2 linked regions of the Homo sapiens genome follow. The protein of the gene in region 2 interacts with the protein of the main gene of each other region in a pairwise test. Each region holds a gene or a part of one and is shown on either strand. Other genes may lie near its edges.

Region 1 (7,027 bases), on a different chromosome or scaffold from region 2:
TGATTTTCATGTCAACTTATGAGAGATTTATGATCAGTACTAAGTTTCCTGGCAAATACCTGTCTGGATACTTCTGAGACTGCATTCAAGTTTGTCAGTCTTGACTTCCTTCTAACTTTTACTTTGATTATCAACCTTTACCAGAGAGGTGAGCACTACAGGTGTTCTGATTGCTGCCACTACAGACTATTCCCTCCCCATTATTGTCAATACTCCTTTCAGAGTAGTGCCTTCTAAATATATAAGGGTAAACTTACAAGCCGTCTGAGGTTTTATCGGCTAATTTCCCCAAAGCAGATCAAATCCTCTTTTTGAACCCCTTGGTACGATGTACTTACTAATAATGCTTCAGACTTGTATTTTATTTTATTTATTTCTGTACTTAAATTATAACGTCTCAAGGGTTAAATCCTTTTATGTATTTATTTATTTATTTATTTATTGCTTCTCTTCTTGCACTGTACCTTGCCCTTCAGTAAGCATTTCTTTTTCATAGTTGAAGAAATGTATTGGAAGAAGGAACAGAGAAACCATTTACAAAAGAAAAGAAAAACCATTTACACAGATTATCTCTAATGGATAAAGGGAACTTTATCATACACACACACATACATACATATATGAGCATGTATATTCTAATAAGCAAACTGCAGATGACAAATTCTAAGTGCAGAATTATTTAATACCTCAAATCTTCCAGTCCTATCATCTTCTCATGTAACTGCCATGTTCTGCCTATGCGTTCATCCTGCCTTTCCCCCACTCTGCCTCTGCTACTCCTTCAGGTCTCACTCTTCTCTTGTGTGCTCCTTTACCTTTCTGATCTCCTTTTCCACTGTACTCTGCCCAGGGCTCCTGACTAGCCATAATAGAGCAAGCTGTGGCCCACCATTATTTAAAATTCTGTTTCAAATTATTATGAATTTACTTACTTTAAATATAGATACTTAATTTTATATTATGTAGTCAAAATCTTAAAAGTTAAAAAATGTATCCGACACCTGTTAAAGGACCATGGCAGTGGGGCTGATTAGATCTGTATAATGCTGAAACCCTGATTCCTCCTGTTCTCTCAATCATTGAGTATACTAGCTTTGCAGGGTTGGCGTGTAGGCTTCTTGGACTTTTATTTCATGAAATAACCACTCTTGTAGTAGGGTTTTTTGTATGATTAAGCTAAAACCACTGACCAACCAAGTTCGTAATCCCTCAAAAATATGTGGAAATATTTATTTCACTTCTCTGAGCCCTAGTTTCCTCATCTAAAAGATAAGAATAGTAGTAACACCTATTGTGATATAGACAAGGAATCACTCAGTCCCTGGTAGACCTTCAATAAATATTGTTAATGATTCCTTTTTATTTGATTCCAGATTTAATATTTTTTTCTTGGCAAAAGGAAGTTTTGTTTTAAGCAGGGTTTTTTTTTTTTCATTTAATTTTGGACAGTGTAAGGAGTTTCTTCAAATGGCTTTATGAGTAAGTTTGAGTTAAAGAAAATTAGATTTGTGATACCCTGCAAAAAGTAAGGGTGTCAGAACAAACTTTGATTTTATGAAGCCTGCCTAGAAGTCTGAGGCAAACCACAGGAATGTAAAGTGGTAGAGAAGTCAGCATGATTTCTTTTTTTAATGTTTGCGGTGAAAAGTATGTCATATACCTTTCTTTCTTTGAGACAGGGTCTTGCTCTGTCAGGCTGGAGTGCAGTGGCGCGACCACAGCTTACCACAGCCTCTAACTCCTGGGCGCGACCATGGCTTACCACAGCCTTTATCGCCTGGGCTCAAGTGATTCTCCTCCCTCAGCCTCTCCAGTAGCTGGGACTGCAAGCACACACCACCATGCCTGGTTAATTTTATATTTTTTGGAGAGACAGGGTCTTGATGTGTTTATAATACACTTTTCAGTGATGACTCCTGAAGACTCATATATCTGCATTTCATGAAGAAGTTAACCTTATTCACAGAAATTTCTGTTATTTGGGAGTTGTTCTGTAACTTTGCATCCTGCTTTATTTTTTCACTTAACATAGCATTATCAACAAAAAAGAATCACTGTAAAATAAATTTGGTAATTCTGTAGTTCATTGGATATTTATTGGTCATTCCCCGCTTGATGGCATGAAGTAAGCTCATGTGTCTAAAGCACTTAGAACACTCCTTATACATAATAAATACTATACTGTGTATATGTTTGGTCAAGATTATAATTTTTAAGTTGTTTTTCCAGTTACTAAGTTTTATTCATATGTCCAAACAATATATATGTGTAGTCTTTCTGTATTTGTTACTGTTATTTACCATCTTTATCAGTGTCATTTCATAAAAGGACTGGTTTGGAGGCAAGTACTTAAGGAGGATTGGGAACTTATTGATTCCTCCCATTATGAGTATTTGAGGGAGAGCACCTGTGATTTTTTTTTTTAAGGAAACATGAGCTTTGAGTGTATTGTTCCAATAAAAGGTTTAAACATGTGACATTAGAGTCCGTCTTAATCCAAAATTGTCTGGCTATATGGAGTGAATTGTCATGGCTTTCATATACTGCTATGAGGTAAAATTAAACTGCACTTCCTAACATTGCTGGAATTGCTAAATTTCTGGAATGTATTCCCTTCACCTTCTTCAAGGTGCTAATTAGAAACAGGTAAATTTTTGTTTAAGTAAATACAGTGCAATTCTTTGTGAATTCTATGGTATTCATGATGATTTATTTATTTACTTGTTTAAGATAGAGTCTCATTCTGTCACCCAATCTGGAATGCAGTGGTGCGATCTCAGCTCAGTGCAACCTCTGCCTCCTGGGTTCAAGCGATTCTCCTGCCTCAGCCTCCTGAGGAGCTGGGATTACAAATGTCTGCCACCACACCCAGTTAATTTTTGTATTTTTAGAGAGAGGGAGTTTCACCATGTTGGGCAGGCTGGTCTGGAACTCCTGAGCTCAAGTGATTGCCCACCTCGGCCTCCCAAAGTGTTGAGATTACAGGCATGAGCCACCACACCTGGCCATCATTACAATTGTTTTGTTTGTTTGTTTGTTTTGTTTTGTTTTGTTTTTTGGAGACAGAGTCTCACTCTGTCATCCAGGCTGGAGTGCAGTAGTACGATCTCAGCTCACTGCAACCTCCGCTTCCCGGACTCAAGCAATTCTCCTGCCTCAGCCTCCCGAGTAGCCGGGATTACAGGCGCACACCACCACGCCTGGCTAATTTTTGTGTTTTAGTAGAGACGGGGTTTAACCATGTTGGCCAAGCTAGTCTTGAACTCCTGACCTCAGGTGATCCACCCACCTTGGCCTCCCAAGGTGCTGGGATTACAGGCGTGAGCCACCACGCCTGGCCCATTACAAATTTTTTAAGCATGATACAGTCACATGGCCAGAGTTAATAATCACTAGAATGAAGAAGTATTGGCATATTAACAAACACATTTGCTTTTTCCACTTAAAATTAGACTCATCCATCTCCCCCAACTCAAAAATGAAACAAAGATGGAGGGAGAACGGAATTGGGAAGGTAAGTGTCAGTTTGAGCAGTAAACCTCCCAAAATCAGCTTTATTTCTTAGCCTGTGTAAAAATTTAAAGCACACTCTAACATGTTTGTTATGGTCTTTTACTTTGCTTCCCATCCTTCAAAATCATGTGTCTTTCCTGCTTTATTTTTTATTTCAGCATAAAGATGCCTATCAAGTGATATTGGATGGTGTGAAAGGTGGTACTAAGGAAAAGCGATTAGCAGCTCAATTTATTCCGAAATTCTTTAAGCATTTTCCAGAATTGGCTGATTCTGCTATCAATGCACAGTTAGACCTCTGTGAGGATGAAGATGTATCTGTAAGTTTATGAATGACACTTCATAGCAATCTTTCAGATGTTTCTGTATGTGGCTGATACAATTGGAGTAGCAATCTGATATATCAGAGTACACAATAAAATACTATGGTATGGTCTGGCATGGCATCACACCCAGGCTTAAATTTACATATGATAAAGTGTATTAGCCTTTTTCAACACCTTTAAATTATGAAAAATGCATAGAATCTCAAAATACTTAGTTTCGCTTATCATTTATCCACTGTTAAAAATGGGTTGTGGCTCACATCTTGTTTCATAGATTGTTATTCATTGTGCATATGAAATTAGACTGTTTTTAATCAATTTGTGCTTACTTGGATATTTAAATTATTAAGTGTTATATCATAAAATGTAGTTTCACTACCCTTATATATTTTGCATGGCAGAAAAATGGTATGTGTAATAAGTGAATAGGATTACTAGATTAAAAAGAAATAGTTTTTGTTTTTTGGTTTTTGGGGGGTTTTTTGGAACAGAATTAACCAGTAATATTTCTGGCTGCTGACACAGGTTCCTAAGAATATTCAGCCGTTAGCTCTTGTCTTTTCAGATGAAACAGCGAATTGCCAACATTTCATGCAGAATTTGCTGGATATAAACCCTATACTTTTTTTGCTTTTTTAATAGAAACAGGGTTTCACTCTGTTGCCTAGACCAGAGTGCAGTTGCACATCCATAGCTCACTGCAGCCTTGAACTCCTGGGTTCATGCATTTTTTTCCACTTTAGCCTCCCAAGCAGCACAGACCACCGTTCCCAGCTGATTTTTAATTTTTTTGTAGGGTCTTGCCATGTTGTCCAGGCTGGTCTCAAACTCCTGGCCTCAAGCTATCCTCCCACCTTGGCCTTCTGAAGCATTGGGATTACAGGCGTGAGCCACCTCATCTGGCCCGCTGTACATATTTTATGTAAAAATCGAATAAGCCAAGATCAGTATTTGGAATTAAACATGCAGAATATAGCCACAAATGTTGTATTTAGTAGTCAATACTGAAAATTCTAAAGTAAACAGTTACTAGGTATAACATTGCCACAGTAGCCATTTTTTAGGAATACTATATTATAAGCCCATAGGTAGTAAAAACCTAACAGTTGCATATAATTAGCATGTAAATAGTTGTTTATAATCTCAAATCTGTCTCCTTCAGCGAGACATTGTTAACATCCCTTTTTATATTTTATTCTGTGTAACTTGAAGATTAAATTGGAGCAAATTCTCTCTTTTTTTTTTTTTTTTTTTTTGAGAAGGAGCCTTACTCTATTGGCCAGGCTGGAGTGCGGTGGTGCAATCTTGGCTCACTGCAACCTCCGCCTCCCTGGTTCAAGCGATTCTTCTGTCTTAGCCTCCCAAGTAGCTGGGACTATAGGCGTGTGCCACCACGCCTGGCTAATTTTTGTATTTTTAGTACGGACAGGGTTTCACCATATTGGCAAGGCTGGTCTCAAACTCCTGACCTCGTGATCCACCTGCTTCAGCCTCCCAAAGTGCTGGGATTACAGGTGTGAGCCACCACGCCCGGCCAATTGGAGCAAATTCTTTTTAAAACTGCTAGAAATCTGCTGTTTCATATTTTTGTGACTCGTATGCCCCTAATGATGGCTTCTCTGTGGTTTTAGTTTTCTTAAAAAGTTGAGTTTGCAGCTGGGCATGGTGACTCATGCCTGTAATCCCAACACTTTGGGAGGCTGAGGTGGGAAGATCACTTGAGCCCAGTAGTTCGAGAACAGCCTGGGCAACATAGGGAAATCCGCCTTTAAAATTAGCCAGGCGTGGAGGCTTGCGTCTATAGTCCTAGCTACTAGGGAGGCTAAGGCAAGAGGCTCTCTTGAGCCTAGAAGGTCAAGGCTACATTGAGCCATGGTTGCACCACTGCACTCCAACCTGGGCAACAGAGCAATACCTTGTCTTTAAAAAAAAAAAAAAGAAAGAAAAGAAAAAGCTGTTTGTTATTTTAAAGGTGATAGTATTTGGTTAATTTTTGTTTGAAATCATGCCCAGATTCGACGTCAAGCAATTAAAGAACTGCCTCAATTTGCCACTGGAGAAAATCTTCCTCGAGTGGCAGATATACTAACGCAACTTTTGCAGACAGGTAAGGGATTTTATTATTACCTTTTTCTCTAAATATATATCTTCTTTCTGAAATGTTGACTCTGTTTTTAGGTTTTAAATGGGGTGCAGGAGAGCTGGAGGTCCTACCTCTGATAGAGATTAAATTTCCTACTTTCATTCAGTAGTTAAAGTGTAATGATTTCTGGTTATCTAATTCCTGGTGTTGTTTTGTTTTTAATTCCGTTATGAAGGTGTAATGACTAGATTCTTTTGGGCATTTTGATATATCATAATTTTTCCCCCAATTTCCTGTAGTTTCATAATTGTAGCATCTTAATAAAAGTTTTTCAGGCATGCCAGATCGGGTTCTCAACTTACAAGGAACACGTATCTTTTTGGTACTTGAGGGAATGGCTTAAGTTATAAGTTTCCTGTCAATGTAACCTTGAGAAACTAAGTTGAATCAAGTTTGAAACTGAAGCAGATGATATTTTAAATTTGTTTTATATTCATTATGCCACTTTTTCTTTATCCAGATGACTCTGCAGAATTTAACCTAGTGAACAATGCCCTATTAAGTATATTTAAAATGGATGCAAAAGGTAAGGCCAGTTCTTATTCTGAATTGTGTTTGATGTCTTACAGAATCACAAAGTTAGGTGTTACTCATTAAGAATAAACTCTAGGGTTTACCCAGAGTTCTATTTCATAAAAATTCTAAGTATTGTGAAAAAAGTCTCCTTAGGTCAAGATGTTTATGACTAGAAAAACGAGCAGAAATAACTGCAAAAACAGATCACGTTTTTCCATTAGAAATCTGTTGGAAGAACTCCTTTTGACACTTTCAAGAAATTCTTCCAAAATACCTGGGTTTTATTATTAGTAATGATAAAAAAGGAAAGTCATGCTTAAGCTGACTATGTCTTCATGAAGAAAGCACTCTTATGGTTCAGGCTGTAGAAATTTCAGACTACTTTTAACTAGTAATGAGGATGATATTTGGGAAGTTCATTAACTTATTTGAGAAGAAATACTATAAATTGAGTTAAATGGGAAAACACCATTACACTATAGAATTGACTTGCTACAGGCAACTATTTTGTTTTGCAGGGACTTTAGGT
Region 2 (7,228 bases):
CTGGTTTGTCTAAGTCAAACAGCTATATAACATTAACAATGTCATTTAGCCCTAGTGAAATATTAACTTGGTTCTGTCAATTCAGTCAAGGTTGAAATCCTCTAGTCGATTTTGGGCAGTCAATAACATCCACTGTTTGACCAGTTTAATTTCCTTTCGTTTCTCTTATGCGTATTTCTACTTTTTGTCTGTCCTGTTAATCTCTCTGTTTTAATCTTTTCCCTTATAATTTTTCTTCTTTTTCCATCAGCCTCCTTTTCTGTACTTTTTGGATTATTGCACTTCTTCTAGAGGCATGCTATCTCCTTTCTCCTTTCTGCAGATATATATATATATATATATATATATGTATATTTATTTATTTATTTATTTAGAGATGGAGTCTTGCTCTGTCACCCAGGCTGGAGTGTAATGGCGTGCTCTCAGCTCACTGCAACCTCTGCCTCCCAGGCTCAAGTGATTCTCCTGCCTCAGCGTCCTGAGTAGCTGGGATTACAGGTGCCTGCCACCATGCCTGGCTAATTTTTTTCTGTATTTTTAGTAGAGATGGGGGTTTCACCATGTTGGCCAGGCTGGTCTCAAACTGCTGACCTCAGGCGATCTGCCTGCCTCCGCCTCCCAAAGTGCTGGGATTACAACCGTAAGCAGGCATGAGCCACCGCGTCCGGCCTCTGCTGATATAGTTAAAAAGATTCTTTGTTCATTAATTCAACTTTTATTGAGCAATTACCACATAGTAGGTCTTTTTCTAGGTGCTGGGCTGGAGATACAAAAATAACCAAAAGAGACAAAAATCTCTACCCTTGTAGAGCTTACATTCTAGTAGTAAGTGAAATAGATAAGCAACAATAAACAAAATAGAAAAGTAAGTTATATATCAAGTATTAAGTGCTATGCGGAAAATTCCTGGGGATCAGGAATTTGGGTAGCCTGTTACAATTTTAAATAGATTGATCAGGAAGGTTGTTAAAAGATCATTTGAACAGGTAGTTGAAGGAAATAAGGAAGCAAGTCATGGAGATGTTTGTGAGGAGTTGTTCTATACAAAAACAAAAACAAAAACACCAGCATATACAAACTCCTAAGGCAGGAGAGTTCTTTTCCTGGTGGAGTTATGGGATTTAAAAAAAAAAAAGGAAAAACAAAACTTTATCTGAGGAATATGATCTCCTTTAAATGATCGGGCCTAGAGAAGCATTGGAATGAAACACCAATCATGTCTCTCCTCCTTGAGCTGAATACTTACCTCTTTTCAAAAGGAATTATTACTATTTTTTAAAGACAGGGTCTCTCTCTATTACCCAGGCTGGACTGCAGTGGTGTGGTAATAGCTCACTGAGGCCTTCAACTCCTAGGCTCAATGAATCCTCCCATTTCAGCCTCTGGAGTAGCTGGGACTATTGCCATGTACCACCATGCCTAATTTTTTAAAAATTTTTTCGTAGAGATGGGGGGTCTCACACTATGTTGTGCAGGCTGGTCTCAGACTCCTGGGCTCAAGCAATCCTCCTGCCTCAGCCACCCAAAGCACTGAGACTACAGGCATGAGCCACCATGCCTGGCCTAATTACCTCTTGAAGCCACATTCTATTTGGCCTCTAGACGAACTGATGTCAACTAGCTACACAATGGCATACAATCTATAGTTCAACATTGTACAGCCAATCATTAACCAACATTATTTCTTAAACCAATGAGAATTCATGACAAACAACCTTTTAAATCACCCTCTCTCCTGATTCGTCCTTTTTTCTTTAAAAAGTTGAGCTTCTCTTTCGTTCTCCAGAGCACTCCCCAAGGCAACTTGGATGTGTGTCCTGGACTGCAATGCTCACGTTGGCCCAAATAAACTCTTTATATTGATTTTACCTCAGCTTATTCCTTTTAAATAGACAGAGGACAATAAGGAGGTCAGTATGGCTGAAGCACAATGGAAGAGGAAGAGGCTAGTAGATGTGATTAGAGCCCACAGGGGCTGGAGGTGATGGCGAAGGAGGAGGCAGGTCATTTAGGGGCTTTTCTATTGGAAGAACTTGGCTTTTACTCTGAGTGAAATGGAAATCCCTTAGAGGGTTTTGGGCAGAGTTAAATGTTGAAATATTTTTTAAACGATCTAAAACGTAAGGAAGCAAGAGCAGAGGCCAAAAGACCAATCAGGAATATATTACAATATTCCAGGCAAGAAGTATGAATATTATAGGGAATGTTTTTCTGGGAATGTTACATTTGAGAATAAGAAAACTAAAGGCCAGGTTTTTTTGTTTGTTTGTTTGAGACAGAGTCTCCCTCTGTTGCCCAGGCTGGAATGCAGTGGTATGATCTCAGCTCAGTGCAACGTGTGCCTTCCAGGTTCAAGCAATTCCCTTGTCTCAGCCTCCCAAATGGCTGGGACTACAGGCACCCGCCACCATGCCTGGCTAATTTTTAGTAGAAAGGGGGTTTTGCCATGTTGGCCAGACTGATCTTGAACTCCTGACCTCAAGTGATCTGCCCGCCTCGGCCTCCCAAAGTGCTGGGATTACAGGCATGAGCCACCGTGTCTGGCCTAAAGATCAGGATTTTGGTGCATAACAAGTACATTTTACTATCCTGTGCTCCTCAAGGGAAAATTAAGAGATTTTTGCCCTGTTAGCTTAAGGAGTGTTAAACATTTTGCATTGTCTTGAGCACTGCTACTAATAAGTGATCTAATACCTGGCACATAGTACACCGCAATATTCGTGGAATGAATAAATACATACTCAATTAAATGGGTAAACTGAATGACAATATCAAGTAACTTGCTTGTGCAGCAGCATTCATTTCCCTCCCTCCTTTTTTTTTTTTTTTTTTTTTTTTTTTGATACAGGGTATCATTCTGCCACCCAGGCTGGAGTGCAGTGGTGTGATCACAGCTCACTGCAGCCTCGACCTCCTGGGCTCAAGTAATCCTCCTGCCTTGGCCACCCAAAGTGCTGGGATTACAGGCATGAGCCACCATGCCCCACCAGGATTCACTTTTTCTGCATACTCTGGTGGTGTTTATTGTTATCTTTACATTTTATTTAGCAAAGAATGTTAAAAGCGCCATGTTATAAGCACACTCCTACCCTCCAAGCAGAATGTAAAGGGTATGTATTTATATATTTTAAGTGGTCCCACAGCAATTTGTACAGTTATAGCAGTTCACAACTATACTCAGTTATGTTTGCTTCTCTCCTTCTCAATAGTCTGTGAGGTTCCTTCAGGTTTGGAACTGTCTTTTATTAATCTTTACATCTCCAGCACCTAGCGCAGGGCTTAGCAACAATTTTTGTTGAAAGTATATACACTGTAATAAAGGGCAGTGGAAAGAAAATATGTGAGTTATCAACACCAGCTAGAGAAGCCTTGTCTGATTCCTGTGAAATATATTCATTTCCCTTAGGAAAAAAAACAATTCTAACCCTATTGCTGTGTAACTTAGCTTCTTGACTTCGAACGGTATTTTAAGGCTTTGAGGAGCTGGAGCAATGTATACTCACTAGAGGCAAAGTGCCTGGTAAGTGGTCTGGTATTGATCAGCAATGATCAGTAAGTACTGGGAAGTGCGTTTTCAGGGCCTGAGACTTGCAAGCTAGTGACAGACCGCTCCAGCTTCCAGTGGACCCGGGCGGGGGCACTGATCAACCCACTTGAGCAGTGGGATCAAGGTCTTCAGCCTTAGCAGTGGGAGCCTCTGCCCGGCCCCCTTCGTTCCCGAGACCCTCAGTCAGCGTCTCCTCCCAAGAGGGTCCCCTCCACCCAGAATGTCCTCCCCTGGGGGAGACCACTCTGTCTGCGGGCCCCCTCCCACAGGAGGGCCCCTCTTCCTCAAGGTGAACCTCTGTCCCCGATACCCGCTCCCAAGACCGAGACCTTGTTACGGCCCCACCCTCCACAGGCCCCTTACCCCCCGGATCCCCTCCCCTGGGGGAGACCCCTCTGTCCGCGGGCACCCTCCTATAGGACGCGCCCCTCTTTCTCAGGGTGAACCTCTGGTTCCCGATACCCGCTCCCAAGACCGAGACCCTGTTACGGCCACATCAACACAGGTCCCCCTCCCCCCGGCGTCCCCTCCCCTCGGAGGAGCCCCGTCTGCGACGCTTCCCAGTCAATCACCCCCAGCATCCCTCCCCGCTCTCACCCAGAACTTCCGCCGCGCCCCCTCCCCTCAGGCGGGACTTCCGCCGGCGCCCCCTCCCCCGCGGCGCCGTCTCCTCCTCCCGCCTGAGGCGAGTCTGGGCTCAGCCTAGAGCTCTCCGGCGGCGGCGCAGCTTCAGGGCAGCGCGGGCTGCAGCGGCGGCGGCGGTTAGGGCTGTGTAGGGCGAGGCCTCCCCCTTCCTCCTCGCCATCCTACTCCTCCCTCCTCGTCATCCTCCCCCTTCGTCCTCCTCGCCTTCCTCCTCCTCGTCAGGCTCGACCCAGCTGTGAGCGGCAAGATGGCGGCGCCCAGGCCGCCGCCTGCCAGGCTGTCGGGCGTCATGGTGCCGGCGCCCATCCAAGACCTGGAGGCCCTGCGCGCGCTCACGGCGCTCTTCAAAGAGCAGCGGAACCGGTAACGGGTCCGGCCGGGGGGCTGCCCCGGGCAGGGGAGGGCGGCCGGGACTCCCGCGGCGGCCCCGGCCTGGACCCAGGCGCCGCCCCCGCCTCGCTGGAGACGCGGAGGGCGAGGCCTGCGCGGGCTGCCTGAGCGCCACCCAGGCCTCCCGACTCCCAGGCACCGCCTCGTGCTCGTGGGTCCCCGCGGGGCCTGGGGCGGGCGCCCCGCTCCCCCACCGCAGCCAGTCCGGGTGCGAAGCCGCGATCCCGGGAGCCCTTGCCGCGGCGTGCCGGTGATGTTGACCCAACACACGGTTAGGCCTCCCCTGTCATGTGCGAGGGCTGCGCCAGGCCCTGGCTGCAAGACCCACGCGGCCCCCAGAGTCATAAAGCGTGTGTTTTAGCGGGAGAGACCCGTGTTACGGACGCGGGAATTGGGCAGTTGCGGGGATGGCAGTCTCTAGGCATGGAGTGGGACTGGCACTCCTTTCTCCTCGGCGTTAGAGCCCAGGCTGCACCATCTGCCCTGGGGGCAGCGCTCTGTGCAGTGTGGAAGAGCACGGGCCTGGAGAGACCAGTCCAGTCCTGATGCCACTGAGGGGCAAGATAGCCAGGCAAAAAGAGAAGGTGCCCAGGAGTCGACAGTTGTGGATTTGGTTCCTGGCCTTGCAAGCTGCGTGTTACTGTGCAGTTTCTCCAGGCCTTAGAATTCTTGTCTAAAAATGGGACTATAATACACAGCTTAGTTGCTGGATTGTACAGAGGAATAAATGAAATAAAGTACGTGAAAATATAAAATGTGCGAAGCCCTCAGTCAATGCTTGTTTGATCTTGTTCTGTCCTCTGGGCCTCAGTTTTCTTGTCTATTTAATGGGAGTAAAGTTGAACAGTACCTCCCTGGTGATAGTGTCATAAGGAGTAAATGAGATATAATGCATATTAAATCCTTAGGACATACCTGTACATAGCACTAAATGTAGCTGATATTATCACTTAACACATTGATTGGTAGTTACCCATGTATCAGCTATTGTGCTAGGTGATGGGGTAGGAAAATGGAAAGTCCTTGCTCTCTCCTGTACTAGTATGTACAAGATAACACAGCTGTGGGGGTATGTATGTACAAAGCAGAGGGAACATTGAAGAAAGAAATACTGAGACTTGGGTCAGCCTAGGTGATCACTAGAGGACTTCCTCTCTTTAAACTAGACACCTGGTCTGAGCACTTCCTTTACCTCACATCACTTTGGGAAATGTGGAGCTGCTGAAGGAATGCTATTAATAAAAGTCCCTGGTACTGCTCTATGGGCCTTTGGGGGAGATGTATTTATTGATTTAATGCTTAGGCATTTCTGTATCATGATGGACCCTCCTTTTAGTTAATAACCCAGTCATCAACCATTTATTGAGCACCTACTATGAAACAGATTTTTTTGTTGGGGTCTGAGGGTACAGAGAGGAATGATGTGAGTGATCCCTTTTATCAGGCATATTTGGGAAATAGCTAAATAAACACATTGTAATGGAAATCTATACAAGAGGTGGTGGCACAGGGGAGCATGTGGATATGTTGGAAGATTGGCGAGCCAGGAGAGGCTTTTTAAGGTTATTTCAGGTGCTCGGTTATAGATGAGAGGACTAGAGGGAACAGTGTCTGCAAAGGGGCCATATGTTAATTTTGCAAAACCGATGAGACAATTAAGTAACATAGATAAGGTTTCTCGTACAGAAGAGACATTTAGTCAGACATCAGTTCCCTTTTTATAACTTGGAGAAAATCCAAGCCCCTGAGCCAGTTTAGAAGGCCCTTCTTGACTCTATCTCTTGTGAGGGAAGAAGTTACAGAGAACCATTGATGGTTTTTGTCAAGGGAGTGGCGCGATAAGATCTGCCTGTTAGATCTTCCTGGCCGCCTCCGCCTCCATTGTGGGGAATAAATGAGAGGACGAAGCTAGAGACAGGGGGGACCTTTAAGGAGTGGTAGCGGAAGCCCATGTGAAAGAGAAAAGTGCCTAAATTAGGACATTGTGGGGATGAGTAGAATAAATACTGAGAGATACAAGGTTGAATGGACAGGACTCGGACCAGTTGGATTGTGGGGGGGAGAATGAGGAAATGAGGATGCTTCCCAGATTTCATCTGAGTTCTGGGACAGTGTCCTTGTTCCAGGCAGAGATTGGAGACCAGGAAAGGTGAACTGATGTGCAGGTCCTGGCATGGAAAGACACAGTTGTGTGGTGGTGCAGAGAACTCATGATCAGGGTTTATAAGGACAGGCTTCTGGTCCTGGTTCTGTCACTGCTTCTCTTTGTCTTTGGACAAATTATAAGGGTCTTGTGGGGCTGGGCCCAGACTCCTGCTCCTCTGAGAGGATCCCTCCAGTTCTGATGCTCAGGGAGCCAGTGTTTGTCCTTGGGGGTCTCCTCTTCAGAGAGGACATAGGGCTGTTGTCTAGTATGAACAGGAACACAGATGGATCCAGGGGGAGGATGGGCCAAGGTGTTAGAAGGTGGACGAGACAAAAAGCCAGGCAAAATGAGTCCTCAGTGTAGCAAATAGAAAACAGCAGACAAAAAGCAAAAACAGTGAGGAAAGTAATTAAGAGATTCTTCTCTTTTGGTGGAATACATTATTTCTCTAGGATTCCATTTTATATTTGAAGAATCATAGACATAATGTAGTTGGTGGT

Evidence for each region. The genes of interacting proteins can lie anywhere in the genome.
Region 1: the proteins of ATXN10 (region 2) and API5 interact in binary tests that used the Homo sapiens proteins (3 or more experiments, as listed by UniProt).

What each region holds. Positions count from the first base shown.
Region 1 is NC_000011.10:43,314,969-43,321,995, forward strand, and holds part of API5 (apoptosis inhibitor 5), read left to right. Parts: intron 1-3,452; exon of another isoform or gene 3,453-3,514; intron 3,515-3,671; coding exon 3,672-3,833; intron 3,834-5,852; coding exon 5,853-5,946; intron 5,947-6,442; coding exon 6,443-6,508; intron 6,509-7,016; coding exon 7,017-7,027. UniProt on the Homo sapiens protein: Antiapoptotic factor that may have a role in protein assembly. Negatively regulates ACIN1. By binding to ACIN1, it suppresses ACIN1 cleavage from CASP3 and ACIN1-mediated DNA fragmentation. Also known to efficiently suppress E2F1-induced apoptosis.
Region 2 is NC_000022.11:45,667,625-45,674,852, forward strand, and holds the start of ATXN10 (ataxin-10), read left to right. Parts: upstream 1-4,209; 5' UTR 4,210-4,439; coding exon 4,440-4,555; intron 4,556-7,228. UniProt on the Homo sapiens protein: May play a role in the regulation of cytokinesis. May play a role in signaling by stimulating protein glycosylation. Induces neuritogenesis by activating the Ras-MAP kinase pathway and is necessary for the survival of cerebellar neurons.